3 separate regions of the Homo sapiens genome follow, and all the other regions are linked to region 2. Evidence: fine-mapped expression QTL. A gene starts in region 2. Each other region holds a variant in brackets. All regions are shown on one strand. Distances are from middle to middle.

Region 1 (5,097 bases), 52 kb before region 2:
GTTATGAGAGATCTATAGCTCAATGTTAGGCGCGGTCACCAGTTAGTGAGATTATCTGAAAAGGTATTTCCATTGCTATATAGGAGGAAGCCAAGAATATTTAAAGCTATTGTTGGAAAAAGGAGTCAAGATTTGTGACATCCTATGCTGTATAAAACTTTTGAAAATTCTCCTATTTCAAATAGCTCTATATCTCAGTTGAAAAGTACTTTTTAGTATCATAAAAACCATATGCCGAGCAGTGACAGGAAGATTGTATACTCTAAAGGAAATTATTGTCATTGAAAAGACAGTAAATTTAAATTCTAATTCCTGTATATATTACTAAATTAATAAATGATTTTTAGACCAATCAACTTTTCAAAATGAGGATATCACCTCTTCATTATCCCTCTCTCAGGACATAACAAAATAACAGGGTATTTGCCTAAAAGTATTGCAAATATAAAAGAAAAATGATCAAAACAAAAATTATCAATAGCAATAATAAAAAACATGGTTAACAAATATGTTTGCATGGTTAACCTCTAATAACCTATGTCAGACTAAAAACGTACAAGGACACTAGTGAAAGACTATCTGGCATGTTGCATCCCTGATCCCTGCTAGTTACTACATCAGTAACATCAGTAGTAACCCGCCTGTCATGGGACACCTGAAACCATCCCTAATGGAGCAATACCACCCAGGCTGAAAACCATTACTAAACAAAAGAAGCATTGTGATACAGTAGAAAAACGATTTGAAGCTTTGACAGACCTCATCTGTAAAAGAGGAGATGTCTAATACCTCCTTATCAGAATGTTAATACAAAACTCCTAGACTCATGCCAGGGATTTAGAGACTCTCAACAATGTTAGTTCTTGAAAGCACAAAAATGTTTCATTTTTTATCTTTGCTTTTACAACTGTAGCTTTCAAAGTTATTTTAGAGTGATTTAAACATTACATCTTCATCTAAAATGCTACAAAAAAAGCTTTACTGTGGTTTACCATTCAAGGACATATGTACGTCTATATTGGAGGAAGGAGGAGTATGTGCATGCATAGCTTTTATAGGTCTTAGTATACCAGGACCTAGCAGACACACAGCAGCTAAAAGACATGGGAACTCAAATCTTTGCTGAATGAACTAAATATTTTTAGAAATTAAGAGATAATATGAATGCTCCTTGAATACTGAGTAGAGCCTTATTTAGATGCCTTTCATAAGCATGAAGGCATGTCACAGACTGTAAGAGAATTCTAATATAAAAGTACAAAAGAAATCACAACAGAAATAATGCAATCTTTATATACTGAACATATTCAAAATGCAAATTTGATTTGTAACATACATTACATAAAACATAATCCACACAACATATAAAAGGAGCAAAATATAGAGTACAAATATCAAATTATTCCCTTAATGTTAAGCTTATTAAGTAGGCATTTCTTATGAGATAATGGAACGTGAATATAAATATATACAGTGATGTTATTTGACTATTATTTAACAAACATGTTCATGTAAGTCCCAAAGGACTTCATTAGAAAAGCAGATAAACTAAACTTCTACATGCTGAACTAAAATATTGAGGATTAAATTCAGTACGATGATATTTTGAGTTTTCTAGACCATGTAACACTAAGGTATATTTCAGTCAAACAAAACACAATGTAACATAACGTATGGGGAGAGAGGAATCACCAAAAACTTTAATGTAAGATTGGTATGTCTTGATTCATAATTTTAACCTTCAAATATAACTGCTCATACAAGCACCTAAGCACACAGCACAGTGAAGGTAGAAAAAAACATAAAATGGGAAGTAAAGAAATCTGACTTCTAATTTTGCCTCTGCTCACTCGTTTTAGACAAGTCACATTAAAAATCTCAGGGCTTTAGTTTTCTCATCTGCAAAACAAGCACAACAGTCATCAGAATTCTATAAGTCTCATTCTATAAAATATACGATGTTTTTAAGACTTAGTAAAATAAAAAAGTAAAATCATTGTCTAGGCAAGTAAAGATAGAAAAATCAGCTCGCATCGGATCCCATTCCCTATTGCCTAGTCAACAACTTGACTTCTGTTGTTATCCCAATTCTCTCCTGAATCATCATCTCAATTTCCCCCTCAAAGTGCATCATTCTCTTCCAGATACACAGATGCTATAATCCCGTCTACCCTTTAAGAAGGGAAATTCCCAGCTGGGCGCAGTGGCTCACGCCTGTGATCCCAGCACTTTGGGAGGCCGAGATGGGCGGATCACGAAGTCAGGAGATCGAGACCATCCTGGCTAACATGGTGAAACCACGTGTCTACTAAAAATACAAAAAAAAAAAAAAAAAAAGAAAAGAAAAGAATTGGCCGGGCATAGGGCATAGGGGCGGGTGCCTGTAGTCCCAGCTACTGGGGAGGCTGAGGCAGGAGAACGGTGTGAACCTGGGAGGCGGCATTTGCGGTGAGCTGAGATTGCGCCACTGCACTACAGCCTGGGTGACAGAGCGAGACTCCATCTCAGAAAAAAAAAAAAAGAAAGAAAGAAAAAGAAGGGAAATTCCCAATCAGTGAAAGAAAAACCCCACTGAAACAGCAGCAAAAAGGACAAAATACCTCAGACGAAACATTACAAAAAATGTACAAGACTTTTAAGAGGAAAACTTAAAAACACTACTAAAGGTTATAAACAAAAAGAGATGCTATGTTCTCGGATAGGAAGATTTAATATCATAAAGACATAAATTTGTTAATTTAAAACTAGGCCAATTTAAACAGAAAGTTTTGTTTTTAACCCAG[C/T]CAACTCAATTTGAAAGTTTATTTAATGAGAGTAGGAAGGGGAAAGAATATCTAAAACAACATTTCCGGAAAAAAAAAAAAAAACCTCAAGACCATATCCTACCAAATGTCAAAACATATTAATAATTAAAACCATGTGGTAGCAGAATGTGTTTAGACACATACCAACGGGTCAAAAGAGAAAAACAGACTTAAATACATATGCAAATATAATATATAAAAGAAATATTTCAAATCAGAAGAAAAAAAGATGGACGATTCAGTAAATGGTGTTGGGATATTTGGTAGCCAAATAGAAAAGAATAAAGTTAGAACCATACTTCATACTGCCTAACAGGATAAATTCCAAATAGATCAAAGACTTGAATGTAAAAAACAAAACCATACTGAGACTGTGGGGACAGTCTGGTGGCTTCTAACAAAGATAAACAGTCTTACCATATGATCTAGCAATCATGTTCTCACATATTTACCCAACTGAACTTAAAACGATGTCAACACAAAAGGCTGCAAATTCATGTTTATAGCAGCTTTATTAAAAATCACCAAAACTGGGAGCCAACAAGATGTCCTTCAGTAGGTTAATAAACAAACTGTAGAACATCCATATAATGGAAGAGTATTCAGCAATAAGAAGAAATGAACTACTGAGCCACGAAAAGGCACGTAGGAACCTTAAATGCATACTGGTAAGTGAAAGATGCCAGTCTGAAAAGGCTATATAGTCTACGATCCCAATTACACAACATTTGGAAAAGATAAACTTGTAAACAGTAAAAAGATCAGTGGCTGTTTAAAGTGCAAAGAGAGGAAGGAAAGGAATGAACAGATGGAGCACAGGTCATTTTAAGGTGATAAAACTATTCAGCATGGTACTGTAATGACAGATACGTGGCATTACACAATGGTAGACACATGTCATTATATACACTGTCAAAACCCATTGACCTGTACAAAACAAAGTGTACCTTAATGCAAACTATGGACTTTAGTTAATAGTAATGTATCAATATTGGTTCATATCTTGTAACAAATATATACACTAATGAAATATGTGAATAATTGGGGAAATTGTGTCGGAGTTGACCTCTGTACTATCTGTTCAATATGCATTATGCTAAGCAATGTGCATTCATTTCCCTTGCCTCTTCCAAACCACTCTCCCTCTTTCCTAAAACTGCCCAGCTCCAATCACGTCAGTCCCCTCATGTTGCAGTTTATTTAAAAATCTCAAATGCCCCTTCACCTGTCAATTATTTTAGCTACTGGATCACTGCCTCTCTCTCCAACATCACTCCTGTCCTAATTCTTGGAGCTTTTAATAACAGTGTAAGTGATGCTTTCAACACTTTGGCTTTTCAACTTCTATCACATCTTATTAACTCCGATGGACCTTGGAGTCATCAGACCTTGTCATTACCAATAACTGAAAACCCTCTATAGTTTTAATTTAAAGGATCCTACCTTCCAACCATCATCTTCTATTTTTCTAACTCACTCTGAAACCCAGCTCTGCGCTCATTCAGGGCAACTGACTTCTGCTCCAGCTACTCTGTAACTTTCAAGTTCTTAGAAGGCATCAAGTTTTCTCTACCTTGTAGCATTCAGCATTCACCTACAGACTATTGCTTCTTTCTGGGATGCAGTGCTTTGAACTCTGTCTCTTTTCAACATTAAAATTATAGCATAAACGTAACCCCCTCATACCAGTCTACCTTTTTATTTTCCATTATAGCACTCTGGTTACTAGCTTCTTAGCTATTGACCATCATCTGTTAGTATCTGTTTATTTCACATCTTCCACCATTAGAATATTAGCACCATTGACGGCAAAGGCTATGCCTGCTTTATTCACCACTGTATAGCCAAAGCATGATATTTGGCATTCAGTATTTGACAAATAAAAGAAAAAATGACGAACGCAAAGAGAATGAAACGAATTAAAGAAATTCTGCCATGTTACGAAACTGAGTGAAACATGGAAATCAAGATCACGTTTTAAAAAAAAAATTCTATGGGCTGGATGCGGTGGCTCACGCCTGTAATACCAGCACTTTGGGAGGCTGAGGAGGGCAGATCACAAGGTGAGGGGTTCAAGGCCACCTGACCAATACGTTGAAACCCCATGTCTACTAAAAATACAAAATAGCCGGGCATGGTGGCGTTCACCTGTAATCCCAGCTACTTAGGAGACTGAGACAGGAGAATCGCTTGAACTTGGGAGGCAGAAGTTGCAGTGAGCTGAGATCGCACCATCGCACTCCAGCCTGGGCAACAAAAGTGAAACTCTGTCTCAAAAAAAAAAAAAAATTAT
Region 2 (5,097 bases):
CTTGTTAGAGACATCTGTCGTGAATATTTTCACTTTTTTAATGTTGTCTTGAAAACACAGATGTTTCCCATTTTGATGAAGTTCAATCTGTCTTTTATTTCCTTTTTATGATTAGTGCTTTTTTCTACCTCCAAAATCTTCACCTTCCCCAAAGTCACAAAGATTGTTCTGTATTTTCTTAGAAATTATGTAATTATAGCTTCATGATTAGGTCTGTCATTCATTTCAACTTAATATTTATCTATGGTGTGAGGTAAGATTTATTTTTTGATATGGGTATCCAGTCATTTCATTTACTGAAAAGATTATATTTTCCACATGGAAATTACCTTAGCTTCTTATAAAAATCAATTGACCACATACATATGGGTCTATCCCTGGACTTGATTCTGTTTCACTGATTTCTATGTCTCACCTTATGTGTACCACAGTGTGTTGAAAACTAGTTTTATAGTAAGTCTTTAAACCAGATGTATATGTGCTCCAACTTTCTTCTTCCTATGTACCTCTGCATGAATTTTATAGTTAGCTTGTCAAGTTAAAAAAAAATCTGCTGGGATTTGGAGAGAATTGACATTTAACAGTATGGAGTCTTCCAATTCATGAACAGGCAACAGCTATTTATTTAGATCTTTCATTTCTCTCAGCAGAGATTTATAGTTTTGAGCAATGATTTATAATTTTCAGTGTATACGTCTCACACATATTTTGTGAAATTTATGCCTATATAGTTCATGTTTTTGGATGCTGATTAACGTTGTATGGTTTATTTTAAATTTCATTTTCCAGTTGTTCCGTGTACACATGTAGAAAAACAATTGATTTTTGTTATGTTGATCTTGTAGTTCCAGGAGGTTTTTTTTTTTTAGGATTCCTCGAGATTCCTGGGATTTTCTAGGAAACACATTGCTCTCATTTGCAAACAGTTTTACTTCTTTCTTCCCTTTATTTTATTTTTATTCTTTTTCGAAAAGAAGTCTCGCTCTGTCACCCAGGCTGGAGTGCAATGGGGCGATCTCAAATCACTGCAACCTGTGCCTCCTGGGTTCAAGCGATTCTCCTGCCTCAACTCCTGAGTAGCTGGGATTACAGGCGCCCGCCACCATGCCCCGCTAATTTTTGTATTTTTAGTAGAGACGGGGTTTCACCATGTTAGTCAGGCTGGCCTCAAACTCCTGACCTCAAGTGATCTGCCTACCTCGGCCTCCCAAAGTGCTAGGATTACAGGGGTGAGCCACCACACCCAGCCTTCCTTTCCTTTTTTTTTTATTTTTTTGAGACAGAGTCTCACTCTGTCGTCCAGGCTGGAGTGCAACGGGCGATCTCTGCTCACGATTTTTAAAAATTATTTCCACTAAGGAAACTGAGGCATGGATAGGTTACGTTGTCCAAGTTCACACAGCTAATAAAATGGGAGGATTCAGGAATTTGGGGGTTGTATTTCAGTAGGTGCAAGGAATTTCAAAAGGTAATGTCATCAGTTAAGGCAGGAACCGGCCACACTTCTTTAGTGATTCTTCAGTTACTTTAGGCCATCTGGATGTATACGTGCAGGTCACAGGGGATATAATGGCTTAGCTTGGGCTCAGAGGCCTGACACTTGGTAAATAGACACACACACAGACACACAGACACACAGACACACACACACACACACACACACGCTCCGGTAAAATTCACACAAGTGAGGCCGGGTGCGGTGGCTCACGCCTGTAATCCCAGCACTTTGGGAAGCCAAGGCGGGTGGATCACTTGAGGCCAGGAGTTCGGGACCAGCCTGGCAAACGTGGTGAAACCGTCTCTACTAAAAATAACAAAAATTAGCCGGGCGTGGTGGTGCATGACTGTAGTTCCAGCTACTCGGGAGGCTGAGGCAGGAGAATCTCTTGAATCAGGGAGGCGGAGGTTGCAGTGAGCCGAGATCACAACACTGCACTCCAGACTGTAAAAAAAAAAAAAAATAAGAAATGAAAAAGGAAAAAAAAATCACTCAAGTGGGACGGTCTTCTCACTGTTGGAAGACCTGTTGGACTCGCTAGTAAACGGGAAACAGGGCGAAATAGGCGTTTCTTCCCCAGAAGCTCTTAAGAATGAATGAATGTTTGGCCCAGCGCTGTGGCTCAGGCTTGTAATCACAGAACTTTGGAAGGCAGAGGTGGGAAGATTGCTTGAGCTCACGAAATTGCAGTGAGCTATGTTCACGTCACTGCCCTCCAGCCTAGGAGACAGACTGAGACCGCATCTCTAAAAAGAAAAGAATGAGTGGCGGGAAGATCCCGCTCCCTGCCTGCGTATTGAGAAACTGCCTTACAAAAGGCCAGGCAGGGCAGAGCCACGCCAAGTTCAGGTGCGTTCCCTGTGTCCCCACTAAATGCACTCGCAGGGTGCGCATCGCCAGGGCGCAAGGCGTCTGGGCGTCTCTCTATGAAGAGGCGCCCGCAGCTAGCGAGGCGGGTGCACTTTCCTCGGGAGCGGAAACTACAGCGCCGCCTGGAAAGCGTGCCGGGGCTCGCGGGTCCTGGATCCCCAGTGCCAGGGCCAGGCGTTCTGGCCCCCGAGTGGCGCGCGCTCCCAAGGGGCGGGGCGGGGCGGGGGCGTGACGGGCGGTGGCCGGGGGCGTCCGCTCCTCCCCCTCGCGGTCGGTAGAGCTGGCTGCGCCGAGCCCCCTGCGCGCTGCACATGGGGCGCCTGACGGAAGCGGCGGCAGCGGGCAGCGGCTCTCGGGCTGCAGGCTGGGCAGGGTCCCCTCCCACGCTCCTGCCGCTGTCTCCCACGTCCCCCAGGTGCGCGGCCACCATGGCGTCCAGCGACGAGGACGGCACCAACGGCGGCGCCTCGGAGGCCGGCGAGGACCGGGAGGCTCCCGGCGAGCGGAGGCGCCTGGGGGTCTTGGCCACCGCCTGGCTCACCTTCTACGACATCGCCATGACCGCGGGGTACGCGCGCCGCGGGGCACCCTCGGGCCCTCCCCGCGCCGCGGTCCGCGGAGGTTCCGGGTTCAGGGGGCGCGGGCCGGGGTGTAAGGGGCGCGGGGGGTGCGGGCAGCGGCCGTGGGGGAAGGGAGCTGTCGCCGCGGCCACCGCCGGGGTTGAATGGAGCGGGCGGGGGGGCCGGGCCCTGCGCGCCTGGCATTGCCTAATACGGTGCACGGCGGGGCGCTGGCCGGAGGTTAAGTATAGAACCGGGCAGGAATGCGGTGCCGGCCCGCGGGGGAGGTGGCTGCTGCCCCGGCGCCGCTGCCTTCGCTGCTGTTGAAGGAGCGCCCAGCCCTGGCCACTCGATGGTCTCGGGAGCGCAGAGCTTCATGCTGCGATCGCTGGGCAGAGTTTTCGCCCCTGTTAATTTCACCGCGACTTTTTTTTTTTTTTTTTTTTAAAGCACAGCACGTCCTAGAGCTTGTCACTTGGGACGATTTTGAAATAACCACCCCACTTATCCCAGCGTGGAGCTCCTGCCCAGCATCTTTATGGCCTCAGGCTCCGTGGCTGATAAGCTGGACCTTGATTTTTGGCTTTGAGTATGACTTTGCAAGTTAAGGTTACACAATGACTGTCGCTCTTCGCAGAGCTCTCAAAGTGACTTTTGTGTCAACTGCTTCTCAAAACCTGTTGGGAAAATGCTTTTCCATTTCTCAATTGCACTGCCTTTTAAAAAAGTTATTTTCCCATTATCACTCGAAGTATTAACTTATGTAAACGCGAGGAAAAGTTTACTATTTTCTTTTTTTCTTTTTATTATTTATTTATTTATTTTGAGACGGAGTCTCGCTCGGTCTTGGCTGGAGTGCAGTGGCGGGATCTCGGCTCACTACAAGCTCCGCCTCCCGGGTTCATGCCTTTCTTCTGCCTCAGCCTCCCGAGTAGCTGGGACTACAGGCGCCCGCCACCACGCCTGGCTAATTTTTTTGTATTTTTAGTAGAGACGGGGTTTCACCATGTTAGCCAGGATGGTCTCCATCTCCTGACCTCATGATCCGCCCGCCTCGGCCTCCCAAAGTGCTGGGATTACAAGCGTGAGCCATCCCGCCCTGACAGTATTTTATTTTATTTTTTAGACGGAGACTCATTCTGTCGCCCAGGCTGGAGTGCATTGGCGCGATCTCCGCTCACTGCCAACCTCAGCCTCCGGAGTTCAAGCGATTCTCCTGCCTCGGCCTCCGGAGTAGCTGGGACTACAAGCGTGGGCCACCACGCCCCATTAATTTTTGTATTTTTGGTAGAGACAGGGTATCACCATGTTGGCCAGGGTGGTCTCGAACTCCTGACCTCAAATGATTCCCCCACTTCGGCCTCCCAATGTGCTGGGATTACAGGTGTGAGCCATCGCACCGGGCCTAATATTTTATTTTAATTTTTTAAAAATAGAGATGGCCTCTCACTGTGTTGGCTAGGCTGGTCTCAAACTCCCGGCCTCAAGCAATCCTCCCACCTCAACCTCCAAAAGTGCTGGGATTACCACTTCCGGCTTAATATTTTAAACTTTCTCCAGGGTTTATAGAAAAATGTGATTGACAAAAATTTAATAAATCTTTACCTATGGTGATTGAGTTTCTATTATGTGCTTAGCATATGATATTGAATGCCAAATACAGTTCATACAAATGTTATTTACTGAGGACTTACTATGCAGGGGACTGTGTTGGTTATTTTAGGTGTATTTTTAGTCCTTTAAAGTCCTGTGAGGGGCACATGATATTACATTATATAGATTAGAAGAGTGAGGCACAGATACTTGCCCAAGATCACAGCCAGCAAGTGTCAGTCAGACATGGGTTTCAACCCGGACTCTCTGACTCCACTGTCCTGCTACTTCATCTTTCTTTCCTCCTAAATTATACTCTTGGAAAGTGAGAAAACTAATGTATTTACAACAATTCAGCAATCACGAAATGATGCTGCCTTTAAATGCATTCGGAACTGAAAGAATTCTCTCACCTCTGTGATAGTCTGGTTAATAAACGTTTCCGGAGCCGGGCGCGGTGGCTCACGCCTGTAATCCCAGCACTTTGGAAGGCCGAGGTGGGCGGATCACGAGGTCAGGAGATCGAGAACATCTTGGCTAACACGGCGAAACCCCGTCTCTACTAAAAATACAAAA
Region 3 (5,097 bases), 60 kb before region 2:
CAGAAAATCTGAATAGACCTATGTAACAAGTAAAAAGACTAAATTACTGATTAAGAAAACTTCCCACGAAGAAAATCTCAGAAACAGAAAGCTTCACTGGTGAATTCTACCAAATGTTTAAAAATTAACATCAACACTTCATTTAAAAAAAAAAAACACACGCAAATTAAACATCAAAATTAAAAGTTTTTGTGCATTAAGGGATACCATCAATAAAGAAAAGTCAACCCACAGAATGGGAGAAAATATTTCCAAATCATATATATGACAAGAGATTAACAGCCAGAATATATAAAGAACTCCTACATCTCAACAACGAACAACAACCCAATTCAAAAATGGGCAAAGGACTTGAATAGACATTTCTCCAAGTAAGATACACAAAGGGCCAATAAGCACATAACAAATGCTCAACATCGCTAGCAATTAGGGAGATGCAAATCAAAACCACATTGAGATGCCACTTCACACTCACTAGGCTGGCTATTTTTTTAAGAAAGGAAAGATACCAAATATTGGAGGGGATGTAGTGAAATTAGAACCCTTGTACATTGCCGGTGGGAATGTAAAATGGTGTAGCTACTGTGAAAAGTGTGGTAGTTCCTCAAAAAATTAAGCATAACCACATATAATCCAGCTGGGACTCTAACCAATATCCGTACACCCATGTTCAGAGTAGTATTAATAGTATTCACAACAGCCAAATGTCCATCAACGAAAGAATGGATAAACAAAATGTGATATACAATGGAATAGTATTCAGCCTTAAGGAAATTCTGACACATGCTATATACAACATGGATGGACCTTGAAAACATTATGCTAAGTGAAATAAGTCTGACACAAAAGCACAAAAAATTCTATGTTTCCACTTCCATGAGGTATCTAGAATAGACAAATTCATAAAGATAGAACATAGAAAAAAGTAACTAGTGGCTAGGAGGGGAAATGGACAGCCATTATTTCAAAGGTGTAGAGTTTCTACGTGGGATGATGAAAAAGTTCTGAAAATGGATAGTGGTGTTGGTTGCATAATACTGTGAATGTACTAAATACCACTGAATTATACACTTAAAAATGATTTAAATAGTAAACTTTATGTTAAATATATTTTACCAAAATAAAATAAGTACTAATACAAGCTACAACATAAACGAACCTCAGAAGAATTACACTACATGAGGTTGGGCGTGGTGACTCACGCCTATAATCCCAGCACTTTGGGAGGCCGAGGCAGGCGGATCACCTGAGATCAGGAGTTCGAGACCAGCCTGGCCAACATGGTGAAACCTCATCTCTACTACAAATACAAAAACTTAGCCAGGCACAGTGGCATGTACCCCATCCAAGCTACCCAGGAGGCTGAGGCAGGAGAATCGCTTGAACCTGGGAGGTGCAGGTTACAGTGAACTGAGATTGTGCCGCTGCATTCTAGCCTGGGCAACACAGCGAGACTCTGTCTTCCAAAAAAAAAATTACACCACATGAAGAAAGTTGATCACAAAAGAACATGTATTGCAGAGCTCCATTTATATGAAATGTCTACAACAGGCAAATCCACACAGATAGAAAGTAGATTAGTGGTTTCCAGGAATGAGGAGAGGTGGGAATGGGAGTGACTGCTAATGAGTACAGCTTTCTTTTTGGGATGATGATTGTTCAGGAATTAGATACTGTTGCACAAACTTATGAACATATTAAAACCCACTGAATTGTATATTCTAAAATGGTAAATTTGATGGTATGTGAAATATATATGTATTTATAAAAGTAAAAACTTTTATCGGGCAATTTGAACTCCAATGAGCCCTGGAAAGCAAAGCAATATGCTTAAGTATAATTAGTTAGCACTGTAATAAATACAAAAAAATCCTTTTTAATAATTATATAGAAAAATTAGGATACAAGGTAGGATTCCTGATTTTAAGGATGCTCAACTGCCTGTGAGGCTGCTTCCACCTAAAGAGCATGGTGAAGGGAGAAACAACACACAAAAGAACTAATATTGACTGAATGTCTATTATGTGCCAAGCATTCAATTTTTTTAATCCTAAAACTTTTTTCTTCTACTTTACTGATTTTGTAAGAGATTAAAATTTTTGGATAGCAGCATCATTAGACTGAAGAAATTATGTACTTTAACACTATTATTTAGATTTTGCCTTTTTCACAGTTGGACTTATTTTAGGAGCCAGGGTCCGTGACCCCATACTGACTTGCAGTTGTGAATACCATGCCGACATAAAAACACAAAACAATCATTTCAATGCATGGTAAAGGCCAGATATAAAGAATTATTTGAATACTAAAATTAAAATCAGTAAAAAATAATCTAAAGATGATTCAGCTCAATATTTTAGAAAATAATCCTGTATACTTTCTTTACCAAATGTTAAATAAAATTGATTATGTATTTTGTTTATAAACCACTTTTTTTTAAGGTAGGAAACCTAAACTGTGACTTTTGGAAAGGATGGTGGGGAAAGGGGTGTTGAAATGAAACTATTCCTTTTTATTTTAGACATTCCTATGTTGTTTTACCACAGCCAATTGTAAAAACCAAAGCAAAGATATCTCTGGCACCAAAATAAAATTGGCTACTGAACCATTAAAAGGACAGAGCTGCAAAGCCAGTAAGAATGAAGCGCTGATGAACACCTTGTTTGTGCAAACACAGCAGTATCTTTTTACATACTAGCTTAAAAATCCCTTCAGAACTGTCTACAAAACAGAACTTAACCACTATTATGAACTGTTTCATTCTGTCCTATGCATTTTTAATTCAGTTTTTAGTATTTCCACCAGATAGGTAATACTGAACTTTTATATATATATATATGTATAATTATTAAATCTTACCAAGTAATTAAAAGTATGGTTAAAACACTACTTTTTAAAAAGGTTTGGGGATTATAAGTGAATTTAACGTGAGTATACTTCTGGCTATTATCCTTCCAATGACAAATGAAAGTTGATTACAAGCATGGTGTCTATATAATTCATTCTCTATGGCAGTACCCTTTCGCGAGTGAAAG[A/G]TGGTGTTAACTGGACATAACAGAGGAACAGCAGGCATAAACTACAATTGTCCAAGGCAAATTGGATGTTATGGTCACAACAGCCAAAACTATGTTCATCCACAAAATCATCTTTTTATGAATAGATCTGGGTCATATAGTTCGTAAGAGGGTAAAAGAAAAGGGGGCAGTATTTCTATACCGTTGCAGCTTCCAATGTCTTTTTCTCAAATCACAGACCAGACAAAGAACAGACTTTGCAGGAATGTACATAACTGCCTACATATGTCAGCTGATGAACTGAAAGCATCAAATTCAATTTCATTATTTACCAGTATTACTCCTATCTCAACAAACTGCACTGTCAGATTCAAAGAAAGGAGATTTAAGATGGAGCTCCTCTCTATCACATCCTCCCTATACCCACTCCTGCCCCATTATACCACTCTCAACCATTCAGTTTCTAGGTGAAGTCATAACTATTAAAAATAAGTCAGCTCATGCCTGGAAGTAAATGAAAATTAAGTCGTGAACCTTCCTTAATCAATCAATCTTCACACACAAATATCCAAACTGTGCTACTGTGCTTTCTTTTGCAATAGACCTTTCTAATTTCCCAAACAAAACACAAACTCTGCAGAACTTGAAGCTCTTAGGGCAAATGTGCAAAGGACAGATTTTTTTTTTAATGAATTCTATCAGCAGTCACTTCTCTGATCTAATGGTAAATTAAGAAAACTTCTCATTTTTGCCCATTCATCGTGTTGGAAGTACTCAGATAATCTGATTCCACCACATGGAGTGCTATTTGTAGGTATCAGTGCAAAAGGATACCGGCCCTTTGGATTAATCTAATTAGGTAAGCAAGACTTTCAGGGTGAATCACCGCCATAAAAATTAGAGAGTCACTGTTAAAAAAAAATTCAATAGGTACCAAAGAACTCTGTTAATAATACTTTCCATAACTAACGTTCATTAATTACCTTCTAGGTGACAAGCATTATGCAAGGCTTTAGGAATAAAGTAGTGAACAAGAAGAGACTGACCCTGCTTCATGAAGTTCATAGTCTAGCCTAGTGTTTTTTTCTAAAACTTAAGTGAATCCCTGTATAAGTTAAAACTGTGACATAAACATAGTTGTCCAAACTTTATATAAACTACAATATCATGTTTAAAACCATCAATTTCAGAAAACGCTACTATCTTTTTTTTTTTTTTGAGACAGAGTCTCACTCTGTCTCCCAGCCTGGAATGCAGTGGTGCGATCTCAGTTCACTGCAACCTCCACTTCCCGGGTTCAAGCAATTCTCCCACCTCAGCCTTCCAAGTAGCTGAGATAACAGGCAGGCACTACCATACTCAGCTGATTTTTTTATTTTTAGTGGAGACAGGGTTTCACCACATTGGCCAGGCTGGTCTCAAACTCCTGACCTCAGGTGATCCACCCACCTTGGCCTCCCAAAGGGCTGGAATTACAGGCGTAAGCCACGTGCCCAGCCAAAAAATGCTATTATCTTTAATTAGGCTTTTATGAATGTTCATAAACTAAAAGCTGTATCAGGCCATGTGTCTAAAACCAAGCGATGAAAAGGCACCATGAAAGAAAATCTTCATGACTACCTAATCAGTTAAGATTCCCTATCTGTCAGCTGTTCATATTTATAAATACACACAAATGGGTACATCTTTCAACACAGAACAATTTTTTCCATGTCAAAAGTCATAATTAAATGTTAGATTTAAAAATGAAGAAACCCTTGTATCACATTTTGTCATTCCATTCTTAAGGATTGAGTGTCTCAAGTATCAAAAGTGGAATTTATAATTTTGTTTATTAGAATTATTTTTTCCTAATGGTATTTTTCATTGTTTTGTTAAGTTCAAAGTTCTGATTCAACACTTATGGAACTAACAGGCCTCAGGCAAATTATGTATTCCAAAGATAACTATGATAATAATTCCTTTGACATGAACTTACCATTTCCCTTCAAGAGGTGACATCTAACAACCCTCCCCTTGAACCTGGACTGACTTCAGTGACTTGCTTGACCAATAAAATATAGTGGAAGTGACATTCTGAGAC

Which allele goes with the higher level. Positions count from the first base shown, and alleles are read on the strand shown. Sizes are in standard deviations (SD) of each study's normalised expression. Not every link is listed here.
For the expression in follicular helper T cells of the gene that starts at base 2,645 in region 2, allele A in region 3 goes with a higher level than allele G (large effect, 0.80 SD a copy in Schmiedel 2018).

Evidence for each region. PIP is the estimated chance that this variant, and not a neighbour inherited with it, causes the effect.
Region 1: its variant is the best candidate, but not a certain one, in a credible set for the expression of HACD1 in whole blood (TOPMed, PIP 0.82).
Region 3: its variant is the best candidate, but not a certain one, in a credible set for the expression of HACD1 in follicular helper T cells (Schmiedel 2018, PIP 0.76).

Annotation. Positions count from the first base shown.
Region 1 is chr10:17,667,125-17,672,221 of GRCh38, reverse strand. All of the region lies in intron 2 of STAM (signal transducing adaptor molecule), which reads right to left. Among named protein-coding and RNA genes, the nearest start is that of STAM, 26 kb to the right of the region's middle. RefSeq lists an enhancer at 379-1,133. The variant C/T (reference allele first, on the strand shown) is at 2,784.
Region 2 is chr10:17,614,922-17,620,018 of GRCh38, reverse strand. HACD1 (3-hydroxyacyl-CoA dehydratase 1) reads left to right here and starts at 2,645. Exons shown (of 7, transcript NM_014241.4): 1 at 2,645-2,936. The coding sequence starts at 2,680. RefSeq lists a silencer at 2,445-3,104.
Region 3 is chr10:17,674,639-17,679,735 of GRCh38, reverse strand. The region is part of intron 2 of STAM (signal transducing adaptor molecule); the gene reads right to left. Among named protein-coding and RNA genes, the nearest start is that of STAM, 33 kb to the right of the region's middle. The variant A/G (reference allele first, on the strand shown) is at 3,036.